Regions from separate parts of the Homo sapiens genome. Here region 2 is linked to region 1. Evidence: fine-mapped expression QTL. Tissue or cell type: whole blood. Region 1 holds a variant in brackets; the other region holds the start of a gene. All regions are shown on one strand. Distances are between the middles of the regions.

Region 1 (8,103 bases):
ACTTTCTTGTATATAAATGTTGCCTTAGGCTGGGCATGGTGGCTCACGCCTACGATCCCAGCACTTTGGGAGGCTGAGGTGGGCGGATCACTTGAGGTCAGGAGTTCGAGACCAGCCTGGTCAACATGGTGAAACCCTGTTTCTACTAAAAATACAAAAATTAGCTGGGCATGTTGGCAGGCACCTGTAATCCCAGCTACTCAGGAGGCTGAGGCAGGAGAATCACTTGAATCCGGGAGGCAGAAGTTGCAATGAGCTGAGATCGTGCCACTGCACTCCAGTCTGGGCAGCAGAGGAAGACTCAATCTCAAAAAATTAAACATAAATAAATAAATAATTCCTTAATAAAGTTGATTTAAAAGAAAAAAACTTTAAAAATTGAGGCTGTATTTAAACATTAGGCGATTTCAGTTTTCTCTTAAAAGCAAAAGGTCTAGCGTCACTGTTTCACCTTCCTGGGTGACCACAGCTGTTAGAGACAAGTAGCAACTTCTCCACTTTGTTTTATTTATTTTGAGTCTTTCTCTGTCGCCCAGGCTGGAGTGCAGTGGCATGATCTCAGCTCACTGCAGCCTCCACCTCCCGGGTTCAAACGATTCTCCTGCCTCAGCCTCCTGAGTAGCTAGGATTACAGGTGTGTGCCATCACACCTGGCTAATTTTTGTGTTTTTAGTAGAGATGGGGTTTCACCGTGTTGGTCAGGCTGGTCTCGAACTCCTGACCTCAAGTGGTCCTCCTGCCTCAGCCTCCCAAAATGCTGTGATTACAGGTGTGAGCCAATGTGCCTGGCCAGCTTTTCCACTTTGATCTTTTGAAACACAAATCTGACTGTCTTAGCTCCCACGGTGTTGCCTCGCTGGAAGCCACCAGTCCCTGCTGGTTAACTCTTTCCTGGAGACACCAGCCTCCTTGGCGCTGGTTCTCAGATGTTACGTCCCCTCTGCAGATATGGCTGAGAAGGACACCACCTTTGAGGCGCCACCCCTGGGGACCCAGCCGGACTGCAACCCCACCCCAGAGAATGGCGAGGCGCCTGCCAGGTGACTCCCCCACCCCTTCTCTCTGTTTGGCTGCTGCAGGAGGGAGCTGTCCCTGCCATGCCCAGGGGATGCCTGGGAGGCAGCTGGGCTGGGGGTGGAGGTGGGGCCTGGGCTGCTCTTTTGTTAAATGTGTGCCCATCTCTTTGCTGACACCATTGGAAAGCCAGAAGGCCTTGAAACCCAGTCCCTGCCCTCAAAATGCCTGGCAGAGACTCGGGGCAGAGGATCTAGGGGCCCAGGCTCTGGTTGCGCAGTCTCCAGAGAAAGGGAATTATTCCTGAAGACCCACTTCCCTCTTCCCATCTTCATCACTCCTGCCTTGGGCTTCTCCCCGCAGCACCAGCCCCACTCAGAGCTTGCTGGTGGACTCCCAGGCCAGTAAGACGCTGCCCATCCCAACCAGCGCTCCCGTCGCTCTCTCCTCCACGGGGAAGCCCGTTCTGGATGCAGGTAATGGTCCCAGCCCACTCACCCCTACTCCCAGCAGGGGCTTCCTCCTGGGGAAGTGTGGATTGGGGGAGCCAGGAGGGAGCTTCTCCTTTGTGGGTATGGTCTGAGAAGGGGGATTAAGGTTGACCCCAGGTTTCTGGCTTCTTGAGTTGGTGCTGTGGCTCTGGCACTTGCTAGTGACTATTCTTTTCTTTTTGAAACAGTCTCACTCTGTTGCTCAGGCTGGAGGGCAGTGGCACCCATCTTGGCTCACTGCAACCTCCACCTCCCAGGTTCAAGAGATTCTCCTGTCTCAGCCTCCCGAGTAGCTGGGTTTACAGGCGCTTGCCACCACGCCTGGCTAAATTTTTTTTTAATTTTTAGTAGAGACGGGGTTTTGCCATGTTGTCCAGGTTGGTCTCAAACTCCTGACCTCAGGTGATCCACCTGCTTCAGCCTCCCAAAGTGCTAGGATTATAGGTGTGAACCACTGCGCCTGGCTGCTAGTGACTATTCTTTAATTCTTGTAGGCAGGAATTTTTTTCACAGCTTCATCCTCGTGGCTTATAATTGCTACTCAGAAAATAGGTCTTTGTTGATTGATTTCATGACTTTGACTAGTTGTTCGAGCCTTTGAGCCTCAGTTGTCTCATCTATACAATGGTAATGGCAGAGACCGTGCAGGGTTATAAGCAGTGTAGCATTGTAGACGGCCTCTGTCAGAGTTAGCTCTTAGGCTGGACGCGGTGGCTCACGCCTGTAATCCCAGCACTTTGGGAGGCCAAGGTGGGTGGATCACGAGGTCAGGAGTTTGAGACCAGCCTGGCCAACACGATGAAACCACATCTCTACTAAAAATACAAAAATTAGCCAGGCGTGGTGGCGCGCGCCTGTAATCCCAGCTACTCAGGAGGCTGAGGCAGGAGAATCGCTTGAACCCGGGAGGCGGAGGTTGCAAGGTTGCAGTGAGCCGAGATTGCACCGCTGCACTCCAGCCTGAGCAGCAGAATGAGAATCAGTCTCAAACAAAACAAAACAAAACAAAACAAAACAAAACAAAACAAAACAAAACAAACAAAACCCCCAAGAGTTAGCTCTTAGGGAAAGATGCCAGGTTACTCATTTTAGGACTTGCAGTTCTAGTGGCTGACACGAGGTGGCAGTAGTGCTCCGGCCAGAGTTTCTGAAAGTGCGGTCCCGTCTGGCAGCATTGGCACCGGCTGGGAACTTGTTAGGAAAGCAAATTATGGGCCCCATCCCAGACCTAGAGAATCAGAAACTGCACTTTAACAAGATCTCCAGGGCACTCATGTGCACATTAACGTTTGAGAAGCACTTAACTGGCATATACTACTTTTTAAACATCTAAACATGGACTTCAATAAAGTGCAATCACTAGCTCTATGATCTCTGTAAGTGACAAAAGGGAAAAACGAAGCGAGTTTAGTACCGAGGTGTGAAGAAGTAGATCTAGATAGGGGTTAAGAGCGTGGCCCTGCAGTCCCCCCGGCCTGGCCTGGCCTGGGCTGGGGCTCTGCCACTTACTCTCAGGGTGACCTTGGGCAACTTAACGAACTTTCGTGAGCCTCAGCTCCCCTCATTTTTAAACTGAAGGTAGTGACGGTGCCTAGGGCATAGGGTTGGGGATCATTCATTCAGGGAACGCTTGTGGGGTGTGTTTATGTGCAGTGGGGACTCCATGCCTGCCCTCATCAAGCAGGTCTAGAGGGTTGGCCGGGAGGGGACTGGGTTCAACCTCTTCCTTCCCCTCACTGCTTGGCCCTCCCCACCCTGACTCCGGCCACACCAGCAGTGCTGCCAGATGCCGGTCACACCGGGCCCTCGTCCACAGTCCCCAAATTTTGGTCTATTGGACCTCAATTCCTTTGTTCTGGCTCCTAGACGCCTCAATTTCTCACTCTCTAGACACAGTTTGCCCTTCTCTCAGCCTTCAATAGTTGATCAGCTTCCTGGAGCCAGGCGAGGGAGGGCTGGATGAGATAAGAGCCTTGGCTTGGAAAGGACCTGTTGTTGTTAGCCATGATGGAAGCTGTGTCCCAGGAGAAGGAGGAAGTCGTCTGGGGCTGGGGC[TG/T]TCTTGTGTGGTTGCAGCAAGGCAAAGAGTGTGGGGCGTCTCTGTGTTCCAGGGCCAGTGCTCTTCTGGGTGATCCTGGTGTTGGTTGTGGTGGTCGGCTCCAGCGCCTTCCTCCTGTGCCACCGGAGGGCCTGCAGGAAGCGAATTCGGCAGAGTAAGTGGCTGTGTCCTTGGGGCCTTGGGGAGGACAGGTTGCTCTCTGCCAGCCTGGCCTGGGTTCTTTCCCTGCCTGCTCCTGCTCTCTGAGGCCGCCACCCCCAGCCTTCCTCCTGGTGTCGTTTCAGAGCTCCACCTGTGCTACCCGGTCCAGACCTCCCAGCCCAAGCTAGAGCTTGTGGGTGAGTGTCCAGCCGTCCAAAGGGGCTGCCCGAGCCAGAGGAACACAGGGCAGCTCTGGGCCCGGGGCGTGGGCTCCAGAGACTGAACTTCTACCCCAGCCTCGAAGCTCCCTGTCTGTGGCTCCTGTCGCATTCTGTACATCTGTAGGGATGCAATGTGGGTGAAAACTCATGCGTGTGGAGAATGCAATGAGGTGAAGACTGTACTGGGTGTGACGACTGTGTGGCTTGCCCAGAGCAGCACCTGGATGGATGCTGGCATGAACGTTTAAAAGTCTATCTTGTCTGTCACTTTTTCCTCCAGTACCCCCAGGGGGCATTCCTGCCAGCCTTGCCTTCCTCTCTACATTCTACCCTCCCTTTCTCCCTCTCCCTCCTTCTCTTTCTCTTTCCCCTCTCTCCCCCTCTTCTACCACCTGGCAAGTCAGCCCAGGGGCAGGAGGGGAAAGGAGCACATGGGGCAAGAGGGACCCTGGTTCTGCCACTTACAAGCTGTGTGACCCTGGGTGAGTTACTGAATTGTCCTGTGTCTCAGTTTCCTCATCCGGAAAATGCAGATGGTAGAATCTACTTCAGAGGCTTGGCCTGTGGATTCGTCGAGGTCGGGCTGTTAAGCGCATCGTGGAGTACCTGCCTGCAATCGGTGGCTGCTGCCTATTGACAGGCTGGCCTGTGCCTGGGGCTTTTTCCTTCCTGGAAGCTTCAGGCCTTCCTGAGTCCTGGGTGCTTCTGACCCCCTCCCTGGTCCCTGCACTCTGATCCCTGCCCAGCCTCTGGGCCAGCTCTTCCAGGCAGCCCTTGGGAGCTGGAACCCTCCTCACCTGTCCAGGCAGGGTCGTCTATACAGCGTGTGTCTTCTAGCTCTCACCTGGGGCAGGGGGCTCCCAGCTATCTTGTGCCAAGCACCTTCTCTCTCCTGGGCAGCCCCTTCAAGGCAGGCCAGGGTCTTCCTCAGCACTGCATGGCATGGATTGGGTGCCTGCTCTGTGCTGGGCTCTGATGGGGGAATCGTCTGAGCCTTCGTTTCTGATTTGCAAGGTGGGCTCCCATACAGGCTTCCTGTACTCCCCCAGTGATGACCTTTGTTCTGCAAGGAGGAGGCAGGGCTCAGCAAGGTGGACGGCTGGCCCAGGGCCACACAGCCTGGCAGTGGCACAGCCAGCCTCAGGCACTGGTCCTAGGGGTTTTGGTTTGTAAAGGGCTCAGCCCTGTCCCCTCTTCCTTCCCCCTGCCAGCTCTGTCCACCATCGCAATGCCTACCCAAGAGCCACGTGCTCAGCCTAAGGCCAGGCCCTGGCCCGTCCCCTGATCTCCCCAGGACCCTTGCAGAGGCCCTTGCATAGGCTGACTGTTGACTTGGGCACAAAAACACAGTCCACTGAGGCATGTTTTGAATTTGACGAGTTTCACAAGCAAGCACTGTGGTCCCTGTGCAAGGGGGGTTTTTGTGTTTTGATAGTTTCAAGCCTGTTTCCATGACCTGTCAGGCTGAGTGTCTCATTGAAACCGGCGTTTGCTTTCTTGACATTTTTCTAGTATTAGAATTTCCATTGCCGTCAGTTTATTTTTTTTCTTCAAACCTCTGTGAGAGCAGTTTTGTTACAGAAGAAAAAAAGAAAGAAAGAAAGAAAACACCTTCCCCTAAGAAGCCAGGTCTACAAAGAACTGAGCCCTGAGACTCAATGGTGGACATCTTATCTCAGGTCGTTTTTGACCCTCTAGCTTCTGGTGGGACCTTGGGGTCTGGGTTCCGAGGCTCAAGATGGACAGAAAGTGAAGCCAAGACAGGCAAGCTCACAGAGCACCGGGTGAGAATGGACCGAGCTGGCCGGATGCCCCTTTCCCTCCTGAGCCGTGGGTGGTGAAGGAGGGAAGGAGCACTGGTTTATTGGCACTGGTTTATTGGTTCGTTCATTCATCTATTCACATGGTCTTCACGGAGCACTTCCTCCTTGCAGGCTCTGTGCCGGGCCCAGAAGCTGTTCTAGCTCCCTCCAAGCTTTTAGACTAATTCCGACTGCCCGCAGAGGCCAAAGGCAGACGGGAGGGGAGTGTGCGCCCCTTGGCCTCCCACATCCCAGACCTGGGGCAGAGGGTGCTCTTGGTTCCTTTGAGCAGTGAGCACATCAGGGATCTGTGGTCCGTGCAGGTGCGATGAGAGGCCCACCAACCAGCCCTCGAGTGGATCGACCTTCCCGTGTGTGTCCTCGGTGACAGGCATTTGCAAAGCACACACGTGATCTCATCCACTCCTCCGGTGGCCTGTGAGGTACTTACTGTTATCCCCGTTGCACAGATTAGCAGCCTAAGGCACAGGATGGTGAAGTAATTCGTTTAAGGCCACGTGCTGGGTGAGCCGTAGGACGGGGATTTTATCGTGGTTGTTGAGATGTTTGTAAAAAGATTTTTCACCCTTGGCACCATTGACATTTGGGAATGGATGGTTCTTTGCTGTGGAGCGCTATCCTATAGGACGTTGTACAGCCCCTCTAGATGCCAGTAACCTTCCCTACTTGGGACAACCAAAAATGTCTCTAGACATTGCCATGTGGCCCCTGGGGAAAACCTCCTGGTTGAGAACCACTGGTCTAAAATTCTTTTTTTTTTTTTTTTTTTGAGACAGAGTCTCGCTCTGTCACCCAGGCTGGAGTGCACTGGTGCCATCTGGGTTCACTGCAACCTCCGCCTCACGGGTTCAAGTGATTCTCCTGCCTCAGCCTCCTGAGTAGCTGGGATTACAGGCTCCTGCCACCATGCCTGGCTAATTTTGGTATTTTTAGTAGAGACGGGGTTTCACCGTGTTGGCCAGGCTGGTCTCAAACTCCTGACCTCATGATCCGCCTGCCTCGGCCTCCCAAAGTGCTGGGTTTGCAGGCATGAGCCACCATGCCTGGCCTTAAAATTCTTTTAATCCTTCATTTTTATGAGCACTTGAGTCATTTTCTATTATTCCAGGGAGATTTAGGTTGAAAGAAATTCTTTTTTTGTTTTGAAACAGTTTCAAACTTATAGAAATGGTATAAGTATGAAGAATTCATTTTGACCTGAACCATTTGAGAGTAACTGACTGACTGGATGTCTCTCACCCCGAAAACTTCAGTGTGTGTTTCAGACAGACAAGGGTGTATTTTACACGATGTGGTAAGGATCGTCAGAATTGGAATTCACACTGATACATGACCCACAATGAATTCTCAGGCCCTGTTGAAGTTTCTTTATTTGTCCCAATAATGTCCTTTATAGCAGAGGACTCCAGCTCAGGGCCACGTGTTACATTTGCTTGTCTGGTTTCTCGAGTCTCCTTCTGTCCGGATCCGTTCCCCAGGCGTTTCTTTCACTTACTGGGAAGAGCGCAGGCTGGTGATTTCATGGATGCTCCTTGCTTTGGGTTTGTCTGGTGTTTTCTCCCGAGTGGATTCAGGTCATGCATCTTGGGCTGGAAGGTCCCAGGAATGATGCTGGCCTCTTCTCTCTCAGGGCGTCCTGCCAGGTTTCGATGTCTCCCTTTCCTGGTGCTGTGTACTTTGAGCGCTCGACGGAGGTGATGTCCTGCCGGGCCTCTCCACTGTGACGTCTCCATTTGCTCCTCGGTCATTACTAAGTCTTTAGGGGCGTTACTTGAGACTATGTCAATAGCCCATTCTTCAGCAGACCTTCATTTTCTCTATTTATTTGTTTATTTTTTTGAGACAGGGTCTGGCTCTGTCACCCAGGCTGGAGTGCAGTAGTGTGATCTCGGCTTACTGCAACCCCCGCCTCCTGGGTTCAAGCAATTCTCCTGCTTCAGCCTCCCAAGTGGCTGGGATTACAGGCGTGTGCCACACAATGCCTGGCTCATTTTTTGTATTTTCAGTAGAGACAGAGTTTCACCATGTTGGCCAGGCTGGTCTCGAACTCCTGGCCTCAAGTGGTCCTCCCGCCTCGGCCTCCCAAAGTTCAGGGATGACAGGCGTGAGCTGCCACCGCGCCCAGCCCAGAACTTAATTTTCTTCACTTACATATTTATATCTGTATGGATTCATGGGGCCCTGTTCTGTTCAATGGGTTGTAATCTCTTACCATCATTTTTTATTTTGGTGCTCAAATGGTCCCAGATGAGGTCAGGGAGAGCCCCTTTAAGCTGGCTCTTGTGTGCTTTGGTGTATCCTCATCCTGTGCTTTGAGCACGTCCCTTATTCTGAGATGTTCCCAGCTTAACTTGTGT
Region 2 (8,085 bases), 63 kb before region 1:
GAGTTCAAGACCAGTCTGGCCAACATGGTGAAACCCTGTCTCTACTAAAAATACAAAAATCAGCTGAGTGCAGTGATGCTCGCCTGTAATCCCAGCTACTCGGGAGGCTAAGCATGAGAATCGCTTGAACCTGGGGAGGGGGAGGTTGTAGTGAGCCGAGATTGCACCACTGCTCTCCAGCCTGGGCAACAGAGTGAGACTCCATCTCAAAAAAAAAAAAAAAGAAAGAAAGAAAAGGTGCACCTGGACCTATTGAAGAAGAAAGGCCCCAGCCTCCCCTCTCTGATTTCCAGCCTCCTACCTGCCAGCTGCTGCCTGGGCCAGAAAGAACCCTTTATCTGCTAAGGGTATTTTGGGGCCATTTGGGACTCGGGTTCCCAGCTGTTGGAGGAAGTCCCTGAATTTCCTGAACCAAGTTGGGACCTTGTGTCTTGCTCAGCATCACTTTGGGGACACAGATTCCCAATTCCCCTTGGATGGCTTCCTACTGCATTCACCTTCCTCACCTTTCCTCCAAGAAGCCCACCGAGCTGAGACTGTGTGAGCAAGCGCTCCTCGCTCCCCAGTCTCCTGTAGCCCCTCGGGCTTGGCTTCCTTCCACAGCTTGCTCTGGAGGGCCCCACGACCCCACAACAAGGACTGCTGCTGTGCCTTGCACAGAGCCTAGGGACTTCCCCTTCTACTCTTCACAGCACTTTCATACCACCTGAAACCTGCCGAGGGCACCCGGGGGCTCTATCCACTGCCTGCTTTTAAGAGTCCCATGAATGGCTGTTTTCCTTGGTTGCTACCAGCCCATCTCCCCCTGGGATCCAGCTGGCTCCCTGGCCACAAAATGTGCCTTCCCTCCACTTAAGCCATGTGTCAGCTACTTTCCTGGGCGCCCTGGGGGAATTCTGGTTCTCAGGAGTACACAGTTTCCTGGGGCAGAGGGATGCATGAACCAGTCATTATGGTTATGACATGATGAGATCAGATCTAGAATTGCGGCACAAAAAATGACAGAAACCACTTTTTGACTGGGAAGAGGGCTGGGGGACAGGAGACACTGCCAGGAAAGCAACAAGGAGGAGGTGGCATTGGAACAGGTTAGGAAGATGATCAGGAGTCTGTGTGCGTCCCAGGTGGAGGCCAGCGTGGGCAAAGGCTGGCAGGGGTGAGAAGGCTGCACATTTGGCTGGAGTATAGGTCCAGGAGAAGTAAAAAGGCACAAGGGAGGAGTCAGCCCCTGCCAGGCTGTGAGCAGACTTGTGCACCCTTGCATTTGGGTGACTCTGACCCAGGGGAGCCACTGCAGGGGTTCCTTTCCTGCAGAATGGGCATAAAAGTAGGACCTTGTTCATGGGGTTTTCATGAGGATACAAGAAACCAATGCCTGAAAACTCTTAGCACAAAATAAGCACTCAAAGGTAGCTGTTATTGTTATCATTAAATGAATAATATAATTTTCTACGTGGTCCTCTGCCAAAACACACACCATACTTCCGCAAGGGTTCTCTACAGGGGAGTGTCTTGGTGAGATGTGTGTGCTAGAAAGGTCTCTTTGGAAATCCATGGAGGGAAGGATATGAGGGAGAGACAAGTTTCCACAACATCTATAGATTTATCCTTTTTAATGGATGTGCAATATTCCATTAAATGGATGTACCACAATTTCCGTAATCATTTCTTGTTGTGAATCTCAGAGTATTTCAAAAATTTATAAATAATATATAAGGAAATGTTACTGTATAGTTTTCTTTTTTCTTTTTCTAGTTTTCCAGTTAAATTATTTCCTTAGTTTTTCTTCACTGAGGTGAAATTACTGAGCCACTCACAAGTAGTACACATTTTTTTTTTTTTTTGGCTTTTGCTAAAAATTGCCATACTGCTTTCTGAAAAGGGTTGTAACATTTACCAGCAGAGTATGAATGAGTATTCTGGTCTCACCACAACTTTGGGGTTGGATTTACCAAAATTGTTTTTATAAAGCAAAAAAAAAAAAATGATGATTGTATAGATCTAAAAGGTTATCAAAGGTTGCTTGAATTTGCATTTCTTTAATTACTAAAAAGGTTAAACTTATAAAACTTGTAATTGATTTTTATTTGTATTTCTCCTTGTGCAAGCTATTTTGATGCTGTTGTTCATTTATTTATTCAAAACACCAGCCCTTCTCTCTCTCTCTTTTTTAATTAAACAAAAAATAGAGATGAGGTCTTGCTACGTTACCCGGGCTGGTCTCAAACTGGGCTCAAGTGATCCTCCAACCTCGGCCTCCCAAAGTGTTGGGATTACAGATATGAGCCATGTCACCCAGCTGCCAGCTTTTCTACTTTTGTAGTAGAAAGCTCTGGACTGGGAAGCAGGTGTCTTGCGTTCCTCCTGTCCCTGTCTGGTTCTGTCATTATCACAGGCAGGTCACTTCCATAATTGCTTACCTCATTGTTTAACATAGTCCCAGCTCAAACAGCCTAAGATACTGGGCCTGGTACATCCAGAGGAGAGTCTGGAAGTGGGTCTCTTGGGAAGGGGCATGATGGAGCAGTTTTCCCAAGTGGAGTCCAGCAGCCCCAGGAGGGTTGAGCATGGAGTGGTCAGTTGTGGAGACCTTGCTGGGAAGTTCCTGGTGGGAGGTTATCACTCCTACCCTATAGGGCCTTCACCTGATGGAGGCCTGGTACCTCGCAGGACAGATCAAGGTAGACACAGAAGCCAGAGTATCCTTAGGCTATTCTGGGCTCAGGGAAAATAACTGGCCCACCCTTAATTAGAGCACCTAGGACTGCCTGCCTATTTCTGAGCCTTGGCTTTCACATCTGAAAACCAAACAAAATCAGTCAAAAGAACCCTTGACCTGTGGCCCACCCAGCAGATGCTCAACACAGACACACGGAATGTGGAATAAAAGGAGCAAAGAGAAAACCCAGGGGATGGGGAAGCACTGGAAGGGAAAATCATTCACCAGCAAATGAGAACATAGTACGAGGAGGCTTGAATCATTTCTGTTAGGAGAGAGTGCCAGCCGCCTCCTCCAGGAAGAAAACTCTAAAGGGTCAGGCCTCAGGGAAATAAAATGATCTATACCATCCATCAGTTCCTCCAACATTCAGTCCATCCATCTACCAATCCACCCACCCATTTACCCACTCACCTGCTGCTCATCCATCCATCCATCCATCCACCTATGCATCCATCCATCCATCCATCTATGCATCCATCCATCCACCCATCCACCCACCCATTTACCCACTCACCTGCTGCTCACCCATCCATCCATCCATCCATCCATCCATCCATCCATCCATCCACTTATGCATCCATCCATCCACTTATGCATCCATCCATCCATCCATCCATCCATCCATCCATCCATCCACCTATGCATCCATCCATCCATCCATCCATCCATCCATCCATCCATCCATCCATCCACTTATGCATCCATCCATCCATCCATCCATCCATCCATCCACCTATGCATCCATCCATCCATCCATCTATGCATCCATCCATCCACCCATCCACCCACCCATTTACCCACTCACCTGCTGCTCACCCATCCATCCATCCATCCATCCATCCACTTATGCATCCATCCATCCATCCATCCATCCATCCACTTATGCATCCATCCATCCATCCATCCATCCATCCATCCATCCATCCATCCACCTATGCATCCATCCATCCATCCATCCATCCATCCATCCATCCATCCATCCACTTATGCATCCATCCATCCATCCATCCATCCATCCATCCATCCATCCATCCACCTATGCATCCATCCATCCATCCATCCATCCACCAATTTATCATCCACTCACTGATTCATTTTACAGCAAATGCTTATGAATGGGGATGGGTGGGTGATGGTTGCTTTTTCTGCAGTCTCCCTAGGCCAGTTGTCCCTTCCAAAGAATCTCAAGGGCATGGGAGAAGGTCCTGGCTGATCGTGTCAGGGACAGGAAACTACTCACATTTCACCGTTTCTTGGGGCAGGAGTGGAGGTGGGGGCATTGGAACCCCCTTGGGGCCTCCTAATATCCTGTGAGTCCCCACCTCCAGGGCCAGAAGCTGCCTGCCTCCGCTCCCCGCAGCCCAGGTGCGGCGGGCAGCACACTCCCTAGAGCCAGGACCACTAGTTCCGTCAAATCCGGGGCGGGCCATTCAAACAGCTAAGGGAGGCGTCTCCTAGTGTGCCTTTTCCTGAGTCATCTCTGCACGTGTTTGCCCCCTTTTTTCTTCGCTGCTTGTAGCTAAGTGTTCCTGGAACCAATTTGATACGGGAGAACTAAGGCTGAAACCTCGGAGGAACAACCACTTTTGAAGTGACTTCGCGGCGTGCGTTGGGTGCGGACTAGGTGGCCGCGGCGGGAGTGTGCTGGAGCCTGAAGTCCACGCGCGCGGCTGAGAACCGCCGGGACCGCACGTGGGCGCCGCGCGCTTCCCCCGCTTCCCAGGTGGGCGCCGGCCGCCAGGCCACCTCACGTCCGGCCCCGGGGATGCGCGTCCTCCTCGCCGCGCTGGGACTGCTGTTCCTGGGGGCGCTACGAGCCTTCCCACAGGTAAGCGGGTGACGGGCGCCTGGGGAGGTGCCGGCGGTCCAGAGCCCGGACAGTGTGGGGTGCGTGGGACGCAAGGGAGGACACTCCTCACCCCGTTCCCTGCCCAGCTGGAGTGAGGGGGCGCGGGTGACAAGCAGGAACACCGGAATATGCTAGCACCCACAGGTGGGAGGCTGGCTGAAGGGCTAGTGGTGGGGGGCGCCTCCTTCTCACCCCGCGATGGCTGGGACTGATTCATTCATTCAGTGTGAATTGGACTGAGAGCACTGCCATACGCGGGAGGCGCTCTTTAGCCCGCCTACCTGCGGGCCCGTCGGGGTCCTGGGCAGATCAGGTGAGGCCGTGGGAGTAGTGGGCAGGCCAGATGGGGCCTCCCTTAGCCATGGGAGGTTGGTCGTCCGCGCTCTACCCTGTTGTGTGCGCGGTCCCGTTTGCCCCCTTCCTAAGCTGGCCACTGGCTGGAGGGTCAAGGAAAGGAGGGAGAGTTGGCTGTGGGTGAGAGTGGGGTGAGGGTGCAGGACCACCGGGATTAGCTTCCCCAATCCGCGTCCGGCAAAGCAACGCTGTGGATTGAATTCGCTGGAGCACGTGGTGGGCATTTGCCCCTGGAAGAAGGTCAGTGGTGGGGCTGAAGTCTATGGTGGGTTGCCTCAGAATTGAGTTTGGGGACTGCTTTAGGAAAACTGAGCACTTACCAGTGGCCAGCGCCAAATTAATCACTGTGGGGAGAATGCAAAGTAACCAGGCGTGTTTCACGGAGCCCAGGGGCTGCTGGAGAGAGAGGCCCTCAGCTGACCCAGGACCCCGGTGGACCCCTGCATAGAACCATAGTAGGTGCGAGTGGATGCCTGCTGAATGATACAGAGGGAAAGGAAGGAGCAGGCTGTTAGTCCAGCGGTGGGTCACGGTGGGGGAGAGGGAAGACCCAGTTCCCCTTTAATCCTACAGGAAGAGAGGACTCCATGCTATGGATCAATTCTAGTCATCTGAACCTTAGGCAGTGGGAGGAGAGTGGCAGAGTGGGCTTTAGGCAGGAGGGAGGAACTATGCAGCAAAGGAGGAACTATGCCCTCTTCCATTTCCAATGGGCAATGTGAGGTATTCCCCCTTTCCCCCCAAGAGGGCAGAGGGGACAAAGCCCTGGCTAGAGACACCCTGTCCCAGCTCTGCAAGCCCTCACCTGGGGGAAGGTAAGAGTTTGGAGTGCCAAGGTCTTGGGGAGATGAAGGGAAGGAAGAGATGTGAGAGGTGCTTGGGGGGCTTTGCTGGTTTGGTTTGGCAGCTGAAGCTCATGTGCTTCCTTTCTGTAGAGTGAAGCCCCCTCCACTTTTTTTAATGTTAGAGACAGGGTCTCACTCTGTTGTCCAGGCTGGAGTGCGATCATAACTCACTACAGCCTGAACTCTCATACCAAACCTTTTTTTTTTTTTTTTTTTTTTGAGACTGAGTCTCACTCTTGTTGCCCATGCTGGAGTGCAATGCTCGATCTCGGCTCACTGCAACCTCTGCCTCCCGGATTCAAGTGATTCTCCTGCCTCAGCCTCCCAGGTAGCTGGGATTACAGGCATGTGCCACCACACCCGGCTAATTTTTGTATTTTTAGTAAAGATGAGGTTTCACCATGTTGGTCAGTCTGGTCTCGAACTCCTGACCTCAAGTGATCCTTCCGTCTCGGCCTCCCAAAGTGCTAGGGTTACAGGCATGAGCCACCACACCCAGCCTCCCATACCCTTTTTAAAATAAAAATACTATATATTTAATTGCACAAGGAATATATAAATATATTCTCAAAGCAAAACTGTAAACGCTACAGATAAAGCCAAGTCTTTTGACACCGCCTCATCCTGATCCCTTCAAAGATATAACCACCATAATTGATTTGGTGTGTTTCCTTTGCAGACCTTTATAAATGCATGTCCATATTTATATTGTTTTAATAGACATATATATAGTTTTCCATATACTATACCCTACAGTACATATGGTTCTTCATTTGGCTTTATAATGTCTATGAGGCATCTTGGTGAGCTTTCCATGCTGAAACTTACAGATCCTCTGCCTATCTTTTAAAATGCTATGTGATCTTTTGCCAAATGGGATGTTTCATAGTTTATTTATGTCCTGGATGGATGGGTGCTAAGGTTGCCACCATTGTTCTTTCTTTCTTTCTTTGTTCTCTACTACAGTGCACAGCCCTATATGGATGCTTTTGGAAATAAATGTCTGTGATTCTTTCCTAGACAAGAGACTGAGAAGAGAATACTGAGGTTGCAGGGCGAAAATGCATTCAAATTAAAAGACACCACCGAACTGCCTTCCAGGGTGGCTGGACAATTTACCCTCCCGCTAGCAGTGCAAGAGAGTAGTAACTTTCCCACATCCTAACCGACATTTGATCTTATCAGCATTTTAATTTTTCTCAATGTGATTAGTGAAAAGGGTTATATCCTTGTTGCCTTAATTTGCATTTCTCGCCTACCGGGGAAGCTGAGCATCTCTCTGGGCTCAGGCACTAGGTCATTTCTTGGCAGGAGTCAGGGAGTCCTTGGGGAAGGGACTACCTGCCCAACACAGTACTCCTTTTTGCCCCTCAAGCCTTCTCCCACTTCTGTTTTTTCCAGTAAAGGTTCGGGAAGCTCGTTATTTTAAAAAAAAAATCCCAAATTAGGGCTTGAATTTCCTTGAGTTTAAAATTTTTTTTTTTTTTTTTGAGATGAAGTCTCCCTCAGCTGCCCAGGCTGGAGTGCAGTGGCACGATCTTGGCTCACTGCAACCACCCTCTCCCAGGTTCAAGTGATTCTACCGTCTCAGCCTCCCTAGTAGCTTGGATTACAGGCACTTGCCATCATGCCTGGCTAATTTTTGTATTTTAGTAGAGATGGGGTTTCATAATGTTGGCCAGGCTGGTCTTGAACTCCTGACCTCAGGAGATCCATCCACCTCGGCATCCCAAAGTGCTGGGATTACAGGCGTGAGCCACCGCCCCCGGCCTAAATTTTTTTTTATTTTTTGGGACAGTCTCACTTTGTCTCCCAGGCTGGAGTGCAGTGGCGCAATCTCAGCTCACTGCAACCTCTGCCTCCTGGGTTCAAGTGATTCTCCTGCCTCAGCCTCCTGAATAGCTGGGATTATAGGTGCCTGCCACCTCACCCAGCTAATTTTTGTATTTTTAGTAGAGATGGGGTTTCGTCATGTTGGTCAGGCTGGTCTCGAGCTCCTGGCCTCAAGTGATCCTCCCACCTCGGCATCCCAAAGTGCTGGGATTACAGGCGTGAGCCACCGTGCCCATCCTGAAGTTCTTTTTTCATCTCTATTTGATTTTTCCCAAGACGCCATCATTTTTCGCCTGGTATTCTGAGGCAGGAATGCTTTCTTGCTAGCTGGCACCATCTGAGAGTTGGCCTCTGATGCTTCGTATCACTGTCTTGTCCAATTGTGTTTTTTTGTAATATGACCCAGGATTAACTGGTGCATATCTGCAGAGAAAAATTTATTCCCCCATAGCTCCATCCTTTTCATCCAGGCACCATGTGGT

What was found. PIP is the estimated chance that this variant, and not a neighbour inherited with it, causes the effect.
Region 2: TNFRSF8 starts here. The variant in region 1 is fine-mapped to the expression of TNFRSF8 in whole blood (TOPMed, PIP above 0.99).

The regions. Positions count from the first base shown.
Region 1 is chr1:12,122,338-12,130,440 of GRCh38, forward strand. TNFRSF8 (TNF receptor superfamily member 8) reads left to right here. Exons shown (of 15, transcript NM_001243.5): 9 at 947-1,040; 10 at 1,378-1,490; 11 at 3,614-3,715; 12 at 3,846-3,899. Among named protein-coding and RNA genes, the nearest start is that of MIR7846, 41 kb to the right of the region's middle. The variant TG/T (reference allele first, on the strand shown) is at 3,561.
Region 2 is chr1:12,059,112-12,067,196 of GRCh38, forward strand. It overlaps TNFRSF8 (TNF receptor superfamily member 8), which reads left to right and starts at 4,192. Exons shown (of 15, transcript NM_001243.5): 1 at 4,192-4,550. The coding sequence starts at 4,488. RefSeq lists silencers at 3,635-3,867, 4,455-4,584.